3 separate regions of the Homo sapiens genome follow, and all the other regions are linked to region 2. The links come from fine-mapping of genetic effects on plasma protein levels. Region 2 holds a variant in brackets. A gene starts in each other region. All regions are shown on their reverse strands.

Region 1 (4,352 bases), not on the chromosome of region 2:
TGATTGACTTTTTCCAACATTATGATTCCTATGTAACTGATCTCCTGAAATATCTACCATCTCCACCTATAAAGGAGATTAAATTTTAGGGAGTAAAGTCACTTCTCTTGCTATCCTGCTTATCATTACTTATGATTAGGCAGAATTCTGCTGGTTAAGATATGATTCCAGGGAGGCCTAGAAGAGTCCTTCTGTGTGCTTCTTTCCCAAATATATTCCTGACAAACTTGCTAATAATGAAAAGTTCCAAAATTGGGAATTCACTTCATTGTCACTATTCTAATGGAATTACACTTTAAGCTCTACCATTTATATACACGTTATTATGAACTGAGTTCATCTAATCATTTTAATAGGTTTTCAACAGAGGGAAGAAAATTGAACATGAGCTAATGGTAGGGACCAAAGTCTCAGAGAACAAGAACTCTGCAACTGCTAATAAGAGAATTTTTGTCTCTGTAGCTGGTGAAATATTTGAATGATATCCAATGATTAATGTTTCTTTAATTCTCTAGGTGACCAAAAATCACACAGAATTATCTAGCAATAAATCCTCTTTACATAACAGCCAAAGCACTTGGGGTTGAGGAAAGAGAAGAGAAATAGGTCTTACCCAGCAGGTCTGGTGTCTTCAATGGCTCTATCCACTGGGATCAAATCGCTAAGGTAGACATTGAAGTTTCCTTCTTTCCATCTTCTTTCTGCCTCCTTCTCCTTTCCATGGGGGACAACTACAGGACGCCCAAACTGCCCTGGAGCTTTGGGGTCCCTTGGAGAAAGTGTCACATCAATTCTTAACACCTGGTGCGTTCCACTGTCTTCAGGTAAAAGGGCTTTTATATGACTCTGGTTGTATTCTGTAGAGGGGGCTTTGGCAGTTATGTTGATTTTTGCTGGCTCTAGCCCTCCAGTTAAAGCATGGTTAGTTTGGGACAGTGGCACTCTATGTGGAGCAAGTGAAGAGGAAGACATCTCACTTCTATTCCTGGAAATGTGTTTACTTTGGCTTTTACCCAATACTTTAGGAAATATTGTTTTGGTTTTAGAATTAGAGACCTCTTTGGGGTCTGCCTTTTGCTCTTCCTCTTTGGTTATAATCACAAGATGGCTTTCAGAGAAATTGAGTTTCTTCCCATGAGCCCCTCTAGCTCCATCATCCTTTGACAAACTTCCCAAAGGTGTCTCATTAATAGATTGCTTCCTTAAGCGATTTGAATTGACAGTGAACTTAGGAAAAGGAAGACTCGTATTGGCTTTGTGTTTATTTGCATTGACTTCTTTGCTCTGAGTCTTAGTTTTGTTTAAGGCCATGGCTTCCCCAGACTTCGGCACTGCTGTGCTGGCAGGGTGTGCCCTCTCGTTTGCTACTGCCTGTGATCGCTGCTTTGGTCTATCAGTACTAAGACTGATGGTCACATTCAAGTCCCTTTCAGCTGCTAGTTTTGATGTGTCACTGCTGGGACTATGACTCTTCCGGGGCTCCTGTTTTAAACTGACACGTCCCATGTGTACTGATATTTTGACTACCTGAGTTCCTTTTGCTGCTATGAATGAGGTCTTTGGAGCCCCCTGAGCTGTCGTTTGCTTTGGTGTCCCCTGGTGAGAGGAGGCTTCAGGTTTGGTGCCTCTCCCGTCTGTCTTCTGCTTGTTAGGAGTCACAGGGAGGGTCTGCAGATGTGCAGGATGCCACAACGGCACAACCTTGCCCCTTCCCAGGGCATTCTGCATTTTTCTTTCCCTCTGGGTTTGGTCCAAGTCCACCTCAACCTTGAGCACACTCTCCTCAGTTTTTCTAACATTCTCTTTGCCCCATGCCCCTTTCCCATGTCCCCTTAGGGGAGGTTTCATCTCTTTTATGCTGCTGTAAAAAATTTTTCCTTGGTCTGGCTGAACTCTGAATCCTATCCGCTCCCTCCTCACAATGTCTTCCTTGATGACCCGAGTGTTGATCTCACTGAATGAGAGGCGGAGAGCTGCCATGTCAAAGAGGAGCCAGATGACAGAAGCTACAAAGATAAATGCCAAGACTCGCCCACTTCCTCGGAAAAACTTTCGGATCCTGTTCATGGTACAAAGCTTTCCCTAGCAGCCTGCCCTCCCTTAGCCTGCTTACCTTGAGTGGAGAGGAAGCTGAAGTAGCAGCAGCAGCAGCAGCAGCAGCAGAGTTGCCAGAAAGTGACCCCCTCCCCTGAACACAGCAGGAAGCAGCAGTCCAAGGGGAAAGCTCAGTTCCTACCGCTTGTCAGTCTCTGCCTGCGTGGCATTTCATAGCAGAGCATCTGTGCCTGCTTGGCTGGCCCTGGCTAAGTTCTGATAAACACTGGCCTTAGGTCACTCCAGGAGCAGTTGATTCCAGCCACCGAACAGTTCAACATATCACTTGTCTTGTCTCCGGGAGCCCATGTCCACCTTCCTACAAGCCCAAGAAAAGGTGGGGGCCAGATTGAGACTGCCGTTTCTCTCCTCCCCGTTCTCCGTCTGCACGCTGTAACTCAACACCACTTCTCATAAGGAAAACATTTCATGCCATTACCCAGAAAACTTCATTCAGCTCTCACCTTCTGTGTTATGTGAGAGCATGTGTGTTTAAACGGCAATTAAAGAGGAAAAAAAGCTATCTAACTTGGAGGGCATGTGTTCCTGGTTTGTGACCCCACCTACCCTACTCCTGCTCATTAACCCTGTTGTAGCCAGGTGCCAATGCTCTGCCTGAGGAATTTATCACTGAAGTTAACATTTCAGCTTTAAGACATAACAGCTTAAAGAAGGGGCCTGGTATATCCTCACTTCCAGAGATGTATATGTTTAATTATTTAGATCATTCATTCAAGGGGTTTCAATGTATTTCTTTGTAAGCCAACTATTTTTTTTTCACTAATCCATCTGTTTTTATTATTACATTTGATTACAAATAAACTTAATTTGTCATACTGCTATAAAAGTTTCTAAACACTTTGTTATGGTCTGAATGTTTATGTCCACCCAAAATTCATATGTTGAAACCTAATCATAAATGTGATAGTATTAGGAGGTAGGGCTTTTGAAGGTGATTTCATTATAAGGATAGAGCCCTCATGAATGGGATCAGCACCCTTAAAAAAGAGGCCCTATTGCCTTGCCATTCCACAAAGTGAAGACATAATGAGAAGGTGCCATCTATGAACCAGGAAATGGGCCTTCACCAGTCAACGAATCTGCTGGTGCCTTGATTTCTGACTTCTCAGTCTCTAGAACTGTGAGAAATAAGTTTCTGTTGTTTATGAGTCACTTAGTCTATGTTATTCTTCTATAGTAGCCTGAACAGATTAAGATACACTTACTCTCAGTTTCAGTACTTATCTCGTCTTAAACCAGCAAGCAACAGTTTCAGGACCACACCAGGACTTGGACCAGATTTTGAGTGATGCTGGTTGACTGGTAGGGTAGCAGTTCCGCCACAGGCTTTTCATTAGAACCACTTGAAACAAGATCCCCAAAACTCTGGTCAATTGATGAGAGAGGAGGTGGAGATGACATTTGGGCTGATATTGTATTAAATATATATATATATATATATATATATATATATATATATATATATTTTTTTTTTTTTTTTTTTTTTTACAAAGCTTCCCAGGTCTTTCAAATGTGCAGCTAAAGTTGAGAAACACTGGTCTAGAAAAAAAGTCTCAATTTTTTGTTTGTTTGTTTTTGGTTTTTGAACATTGCCTATGAGACATTTAATTTTAGGTGTCTACTTGACTGGGCTAAGGAACACCCAGAGAACCAGTAAAGCATTATTTTTAGGTATATCTGTGAGGGTGTTTCCAGAAGAGATTGGCATTTGACTCAGTGCACTGAGTGGGGAGGAGATGCCCTCACCCAATGTGGGCAGGCACCACTAATTGGTTGAGGGCCCAGATAGAAAAAAAGGCAGAGGAAAGGTGGATTCTGTCTCTGTTAGTGAGCTGGGACATCTTTCTTCTTCTGCCTTTGGACTAGAACTTTAGATTCTCTGGCTTTGGCCTCTGGGGCTTGTACCAGTCTGCCCCCACAACCTCCACATCCCTCACTAGGTTCTCAGGCTTTTGACCTCAGACTGAGAGTGATGTTATTGGCTTCCCTGGTTCTCAGGCCTTTGGACTCAGAATGTGCCATGTTACTGGCTTTCCTGGTTCTCCAGCTTGCAGGTGGCCTGGACTGAGGTTTCTCAGTCTCCATAACCACATGAGCCAATTCCTGTAATAAACTGCAACTCACTTATCTACCTCTATGAATCCTATTGGTTCTGTTTCTCTGAAAAATCCTGGCCAATACAGTCTACAACTTGTGTGACATTCCTTCCCTGTCTAAAGTACAGTCTAATAAAATCT
Region 2 (4,000 bases):
ACTGCAACCTCCTCCTCCCGGGTTCAAGTGATTCTCCTGCCTCAGCCTCCCGGGTAGCTGGGACTACAGGCGCGCACCACCATGCCCAGCTAATATTTGTACTTTTGGTAGAGATGGGGTTTCACCATGTTGGTCAGGATGGTCTCGATCTCTTGACCTTGTGATCAGCCCACCTCGGCCTCCCAAAGTGCTGGGATTACAGGCGTGAGCCACTGTGCCTGGCCAGGATTAGCTTTTAAATGATTGTTTTGGTGCCATGTGCAATCTTCCTGGATCCTGAGGTTGGAGCATTTCCTCAGCTGCCCTGCTAGGCCTGTTTCATGTCAGCCAACTTCCGGGTCCAGGATCTCCATATAACAATTTAGGGGAAAACATTCAACAGGTTGAAGAACAGGCTTAGGGATATTTTCCCAGTGTTGTAACCTTCTTGCTTACTCTTTTTTGGAAGAAATACTACTTTTTTGTAAAAATGATATTTGCTGATTCTAAAGACACTGAGTAGACAGAAGCACTATGATGGCACCTCTAGAAATTACCCCCAAGTTTTATAATTTAAGGAGAATCATATGCAAAGAAGAAAATGCAAAAATGATAATGAGAACGGGGTAAGAAAGCTTGGTTCATGCTTTAAAAGGAGAAGGGAAAGGGACATTCAGGCAATCAAGAAAGGCTGAAGAAAACTAAGAGGGCTGGAGGAACAATGATTAGATAGGAAGGCTCTTGTCAGGGATCGTGGCAGGGGTGAAGAGTGTGAGGTCCTCAATATAAGTGAAAAATGAAATTTAATTTTGTCATTCCAAATTTTATTCTAATAAGGGAGATTTGTGCTGGATCACTGGGCCAAAATGATAAGGAAGGGAAATGCTACAAAATAACTGGGCTGCCCATAAGAGTGTGGGTCACACGGCGGGCAGGAGGGGCTTGGGGTGTGTGCATGGAGAGCCACCTTTCCATATCTAGGCCCTGTCAGGACATGCTGGGGCAGCGCCGGGCAGAGCCACATGGTGATGACTGGCTGTGTTCCCTGCCACATGGAGAGGAGAGGCACAGCAGGCAGTGCGGAAGGGACGACATGGGGCTGCGGAGCTCGGCAGTCGTCAGAGTGTCTGCAGCGTGGGCCACAAGGCAAGAGCCTTTGATCAACTGTTTAGCATGTGCTCTAGCTGATGTAACTGCACACGTGTTTTAGATGTGGTTTTCCCAGTAGCACACTCTTACAGAAGCAACAGGTTAAACTGTTGCTGCCGGTGTAAAAGGGAGTTCGGCAAAGTGAAGGACTAAAGACTGAAGGAAATGTTTTGACTGTTAAGCTGGACTTGGCTTCCTGAAATGGGGTTATTGTATGTGCATTTCACACGTTCTTGAGGTGTAGGACATATCACTTCTGACTTCAAATGAGAACAAACATGCAAAGAAAGGGCTGAGGAGTTTAAATCCATTTCTGTGGCCTTTGTCCACCTAAGCGATCAACTGAAGAGAACTCTGGAGGCTGTGCTCAGCTCCTCCTCAGGCTCTGCAGACAGACACGGCCATTC[C/T]CTCTCATCCCCAGGGCTGGCAGGGTGTCAGCCTCAAAGATTCCAGAAGCCCAGGCCCTGCTTCAGGGAGGCCAGAGATAAGTAATCTCCCCCAGGACACACAGAGGGTGGATCCTCTGCTGTCCCTCCCTTCCAGAAGCCCAACGGGTCCCTGTCAGAATTCCAAGCAGAAGGTGACTCAGCACAGAGGAGGAGGGATGGGAAGAACAACTCAGTTGCCCTCTTAATCCCGCCGCTCTCGGCCATGGGTACAGTCCTGCACACTTTGTGTCTTTAAGTGGTTGCTAATCTTTAAGGAAGGGGTATTTGTGTAATACTCTGCTGAGAAATCCTGGGGAGTCAGCCAGCCTCTGGTGACCTGACCCCACTACAGGTGGAGGTCAAGTCTTCAGTCCTGCCTTGGCAGTTTCTTCTGCCTTCCTCCCAGAAAGTGGATTTCTCAGGCATGAGCTCAAGCTGAGAGTCTGGTGATGGTAAAGATCAGAGTGCAGGCAATCTGGCATAACTGTAGCTGAACTGGCTGTCTGCAGAGGAAAGCAAGGGGCTGAGGAGCGTGGAATTGGGTGGGTGCATCTGGTCTGGTGCACTGGTGCACACACATGTGTACATGAGTGACCACGTGTGCACGTGTGTACATGTGTATGTACATGTGCAAATGACACACAGAGATCGCCCTTTCTACACATATATTTAAAAAGGCAGCTCAGTAAAATCGACTCACAGGTAGAGAGTCCATTATTTACTGTGACTTTTCCATGCAGAAGGACAGTGGTGCGGCCAAATAGGCAGCAGTCTCCACTGTTCGGAATGTCAGATCAGCTCCTCCTCACTCTGCGCACATTCCCCCGCCTGCCAGCTCTGTGGGCAGAAGGCTGCAGGAGTCAGATCTGGTCTCTACAAGACTCAGAAGTCAGGATGAAATTCATGTTTCCTCCATTTCTTAACAAAGAAGCACACCTGTAGAGATTTCTGAGCAAGGAATTGTGACTTGTTGCAGAATTTATTTTATTTTATTTTATTTTTTGAGACAGGATCTTGCTCTGTGGCCCAGGCTGTAGTGCAGTGGCTCGATCACAGCTCACTGCAGTCTTGACCTCTTGGGCTCAAGCAATCCTCCTGTCTCAGCCTCCCGAGTGCCTGGAACTATTGGAATATGCCACCATGCCCAGCTAATTTTTGTATTTTTTTGTAGAGACAGGGTTTTACCATATTGCCTAGGTTGGTCTGAAACTCCTGAGCACACATGATCCTTCCACCTCAGTCTCTCAAAGTGCTGGGATTACACGTGTGAGCTACCGCACTTGGCCATAATTCTGTATCTTGATAAGAAACTCACAAGTGGCTGTGAGAAGACATAAGGAAGGAGATGTGGCTACTTTAAGCCGTTTAACGTTTCATGTAAACTTATGTCTAACCAGGGAAAAAAAACTCCAAGGACTTTGTAATATATAGTTCTCTTAAGAAACTCTTTAAGGCTTTTTTTTTCTTTTTCTTCTTTCCCTTCTCTCTTCCTCCACCTCTCCATGGTCGTCTCACTATTTCCTAAAAAGCCCCGTGCTGTATAAATGCTAGGCATATGTTATTTTATTTAGCCCTTACAATAAAGCCTTGGCTTGTGAGTGATCAGCATTGGCTGCAGCACCCTGCCTCCAACCACCTGAAGGTGTTTACAGACGGCCTCTGCCTCTGAGTAGCTCTGGAGTCCGAGCCATGCACAGGACATCACCAAGCCTCAGCTTCCTCACGTATGAAACCAAAGAAAACGCCAGCCTCATGTCACCATACAGCTGGAGAGTCACAGAGCAAAGGTGCCAGGTCCCCGCCATTAGCTGGCGCTCAGGAAATGCTGGCTGCCCCTCTCCTGCCCCGTCCCACAGCCTTCACGCGAGATTGGCCCACTACTCACACACCTCTGGCTTCCTGGCACTTCTGTCAAAACCTCACATCTCTTAGGAAGAAACTTCAAATGTCATGTTTTTTCCTAGTAGATATCAGCTGTTTCTTAGGATGAGAGTGTCTCAAAAAGTCCTGTCCTTCACATCAACAACACTTCTTCGAAGTAAGGGGGGTTCCTCCCTTTCTTTCCCATCTTTCTAGTTTTATGATTCAACAACCATTTACCAGGAAATATCTGGAAACGACTAATTTGGGTCACACACTCTTCCCATTTACAAATCGAACAACTAAGAGCGTGTAACATGTAAGTCAAGTCATTTACCTGGTTCCACAGCTGTTGCCATGTGACTCCAGGGGCTTGCAACCAGGTGAAGGTGCTATGCTATGTCCTTCCTAGACATTAACTTTGTTAACCCTTGAAGCAGCCCTGTGAGAAAAATATCACCCCCGCTTTACAAATGAGAGAAACTCCGACTCCAGATGGTCACCCGACCTGCCTAAGACCAGGTAAGACAGTAGAAAAGAAAAGTGGAGGCCAAATTCGAGGCACTCCAAAGCCCATTTCTTAA
Region 3 (4,000 bases), not on the chromosome of region 2:
CTGATTAGATGGATGGCTGATTAGACAGATACAAGGATGGGTGAGATCGGAGGATTATCTGGGTTTTGCTACAGGAAGGGACATGGGTGTGTCTGTTTTTGCAGGTGTGTCTGCATGTCTGTACCTGAGTCCATGCCTGCATGTGTGTCTACCTCTGAGTAGCCACATCTTTGTGTGTCTGTGGGTGCCCTCTCTGATTTTGCGTCCACATCTGACAGTGGCATTGGTGTCTAGGAGGTCTGTGTGTGTGCCAGGTGCCTCTGGACACCTGCTCATCTGTGTCCACAGCTGTGTGTGGCTCGCGGTCAAGGCTACCTGGCTGTGTCAGGCTGTATCTATGTCCTGGTGTGTGTCTGCCATTCGAATCTGAATTTGTATCCATGTCACTGTGTCTGCGTGGCCAGCCGTGTTTGGTGTATCTGTGGGAGTGTATCTGTGTTTGTGTGTGTATCTCCACAGCCCTGTCTTGGTGTGTCTGCGTCTGCTCTCTGTGTATGTATATCTGAGTATGTGTGTGAGTGTGTGCGTGTGTGTGTGTGTGTGTGTGTGTGTGTGTTGGGGGTGGGGAGGTGTTCTTGATCCCAGATCTGACCTAAGAGTCCACATCTGTGTGTCCAGGTGCACCCCGGTTCCGTTGTGTGTTTCTATGAGGGTGCTGCGTGTGTCTGTATCTGAGTGTGTGTGTCCAGGTGTCTGTTCTCCAAGGTCTGAGTCTGTGGGTCCAGGTGTGTCTGTATCCTGGGCTAGTTGTGTGTCCCTGTCCGCTCCCCCAGGGGGCGCCCTCGTCCGGCCGCCGTCCCTCCCTCGGGCTCCGGTCCCCTGGGTGAGCCCCAGCGCTGGCGGCGTGGGCCCGGGACTGGGCAATGGGTGGCCTCCCAGGTCGCCGCCTTCCCGCGGGGCCCCGCCCCCGGCCCGCCCCAAAGCGGGCTATAAGTTAGCGCCGCTCTCCGCCTCGGCAGTGCCAGCCGCCAGTGGTCGCACTTGGAGGGTCTCGCCGCCAGTGGAAGGAGCCACCGCCCCCGCCCGACCATGGCCGAGGGTGAGTATCAGAGTCACCGCAGCCGCCACTCAGGGGCCCCGGGGCATTGGGGGTCAGGACCCGGTGGGAGCTGAATCCCTAAGTCCTGATTTGGAGAGCAACAGGCAGACCGGGCTGGGTGAGGAGGCGTCTCAATGCTGCTTGGAGCCTCAGTTTCCCCATCCACACTGCATAACCATTAACCCTTGCCTCCCTGGATCAGGTGAGGCAATGGAACGCGACGGGGTGTTGTAAACTGTAAAGTACTGTCCTGGCGGACCACTGGCACGTGTCCTCAGTCAGTCAGTGGGGGCTGGCTCTCTGATGTGTGCCTGGAGCTGTGCAGGGGGTGCTGGCCTGGCCTCAGAACACTTAGGTTTGGGTGGTTCTTGCCAGCCAGGACCAGGTGGTGTGCATGCCACGCCGGTGGTGTGCAAGCCAAGCCTGGCTGAGTCCTTGGCTCCAGCGGCCAGAGAGGAGCTTTCGGCATCCTATCCAGGAGCCTTCGGAAATCAGGCTTGTTCTTCCCGCCCTCACGTTCTGCAACCCTAGACCTTGGCCAATTGTTGAGTCTCACCTATAAAATAAGGACAACAGTGTCCTTATTTTATAGGACAAGGTTTATGAGATTTGTTTTCCCCCAAGACCCCCACCCATCTGTCACCCTGACCGTGCCCTGGTCCTCTGCTCCAGCCTTTGGTGCATCTGTGAGGAACGAGAGGAGTGGAACAGAGGCTTAACTAATTTCATACTGGTGCCCCTGACTCCCTCCCCACACACAAGCAGCACTCTCGTAGGTCCCAGCTGGAGGGATTTCTACAATGGAGGATGTCACTGCTGGACCCAGAATCCCAGCTGGCTCTTGGGTCAAGTTCATCTGGGGATGGCTTCTGCACCCATTGCAACCCCCAGGAAGGGGTGTGGGACAGGGACATGGGGCAGGTGGAGCAGGAATGGGTGGCAGGAACTGTGGACCCACCTGACCCTGCTGTGTGATCTCAGCCACCTGCCTCCCTCGGGCCCAGCTCCCAACACACTGTGATGTGTCGCCTCGGTGGCCGCTTGTCCTCAATGCATCTTCTCACCCCCATGCTCAAAAGCAGGGCTCAGTGGGGCTGGGAGATCCTGGAGATGCCAGTTATGATGAGCCTCCAGCCCCATGTCACAGTGGCCACTTCTGACAGAGGTCTCACTGGCCTAGAAGGCCTAGGCCCTTTCTAAGTGCAGAAATCCTATAAATCCTACAATTCTAGACCTGCATCTTTGGAGCTGGGCGTGATTTCTGGAAACCCTTCTTCGGACAACAGATGGAGAAAATGCCCCAGCTCCCACAGCCCAGGGACTGGCCGTATCTCCAGGGTCTTCCATGGGAACAACAATGGCCTCTTTCCTGCTCAAGCTCCCTGGGTCTGAAGTTTCCAAAAACATTTCCTCGCCGCAATAGGCCAGCAGGAAGTTTTTCCTTCTGGCCACTGAGGTCTCTTCTGTTGTGATTACACGGGGACCGACATCCCTGATACTTCAGTGGCGCAGAACTATCTGCCCCCAGGTTTGAGAACAACACAGGACATGGTGGCGAAGGGGTGGTCATAAGAGGGGCTGGAGAAAAAACTGAGCTGTAGTGAGGTGGTTCCCAGGGCAGAATCCTACAGAATCCTACAGCTCTGGATTCCAATCCCAAAGCAGCCACTTGCTCTGGGACCTGGAGCCACCTGGTGTCTTTGTCTACAAAATGGGAATCATGATAGCATCTATGTAAGCGGAGTTGTTTTGGGATTTAAGTCGAGATAATTCACATACAAGGCACTTTGCATCTCATTTTTGGAATAGTCGATGGTGAGCAGGAGACCTGGGCTCTCCCACTGCAAGGACCAACTTGCGGCGTGACTTTGAACAAATTCCTGCCCCTGGGCCTCACTTGGACCACATGCTGTCCAGTGGCTCCACACTCAGAGTCTGTCTTGCCCACTCCTCCCACCTTAAGGGCTTCCCCATCCTGACCTTGAGCTTGCCAAGGTTTATGAGATTTGTTTTCCCCCAAGACCCCCACCCATCTGTCACCCTGACCGTGCCCTGGTCCTCTGCTCCATCTGAAACTGTAAATGGAACTTTCACGTATCAAGCTTCTGTCCTGGGCTGGGCCGTGGGGAAGGGGGTTCCCAACACATCTTCTAGACTCACAGCAGCCCCTTGAGACTTCAGAGGAGGAGTCACAGAGAGGGAGAGACACTTATCCAGGCTCACACAGCAACACAGCAGAACTAAAACCTACCTCTGGAAGTCTCCAAAGCACCTATCATGTTAAAAATGTTTTGTTTTGGAGAATATTGAACATACACAAAAATAGACAGAATTGTTTAATAAATTCCTATGTCCTCATCACCCAGCACTGACCACCGTGGTGTCTCCTGCCCCTGCGCACCTTCATCTCAGACATCACATCATGTCATCTGTCAATGTTTCAGTATATGCCTTTAAAGGATAAGGACTCTCTTTTTTTTAACACAAACAAATTAACAAAAATTCTTTGATATCACCATTATGCCATCAGTATTTAAATTTCCAGTTGTCTCATACATGTAATAAATGTTTTAAAATACTTTTTTGAAATCAAGATCCAAATAGATCAATACATCACAACGGGTTTAAGTTTCTCTTTATAGGTTCTCTCTTCAATGTTTTTTTCATTTTCTTTCTTGCAATCTATTTATTAAAGAAACCGGACCCTTTGTCAATAATTTCCCAGTATATGAAGTTTGTCAACTGCATCCTGGTTCTGTGTTTAACTTGTTCCTCAGCCCTGGGTATTTCCTGTAAATTGAACATTGGATCTAAAGGCAAAGGCCATGTAATTGACCTGTACCAAATACTGCCCCTGCTTAAACCAAAAGAACCCTCTGATAGCAATAGAATAGCTCGTGTTTATTGAGTATTTATTACACAACAGACATTGTACTAAGTGTTTTACATGCATTAATTCAT

Which allele goes with the higher level. Positions count from the first base shown, and alleles are read on the strand shown. Strength reflects both the effect of a copy and how common the allele is.
For the plasma level of the protein whose gene starts at base 2,445 in region 1, C is the high allele of the variant in region 2 and T is the other (moderate association).
For the plasma level of the protein whose gene starts at base 958 in region 3, allele T in region 2 goes with a higher level than allele C (weak association).

What was found. PIP is the posterior inclusion probability: the model's chance that the variant is causal. The UK Biobank Pharma Proteomics Project read protein levels with antibody pairs (Olink). The fine-mapping took linkage between variants from a reference panel, not from the people measured, so its PIPs are less certain.
Region 1: GALNT5 starts here. The variant in region 2 is fine-mapped to the plasma level of the GALNT5 protein (UK Biobank, PIP above 0.99).
Region 3: TGM2 starts here. The variant in region 2 is fine-mapped to the plasma level of the TGM2 protein (UK Biobank, PIP 0.94).

Annotation. Positions count from the first base shown.
Region 1 is chr2:157,255,798-157,260,149 of GRCh38, reverse strand. It overlaps GALNT5 (polypeptide N-acetylgalactosaminyltransferase 5), which reads right to left and starts at 2,445. Exons shown (of 10, transcript NM_014568.3): 1 at 614-2,445. The coding sequence starts at 2,067.
Region 2 is chr7:50,357,820-50,361,819 of GRCh38, reverse strand. All of the region lies in intron 3 of IKZF1 (IKAROS family zinc finger 1), which reads right to left. Among named protein-coding and RNA genes, the nearest start is that of IKZF1, 55 kb to the right of the region's middle. RefSeq lists enhancers at 532-1,049, 1,050-1,569. The variant C/T (reference allele first, on the strand shown) is at 1,536.
Region 3 is chr20:38,162,228-38,166,227 of GRCh38, reverse strand. It overlaps TGM2 (transglutaminase 2), which reads left to right and starts at 958. Exons shown (of 13, transcript NM_004613.4): 1 at 958-1,039. The coding sequence starts at 1,030. RefSeq lists a silencer at 666-1,105.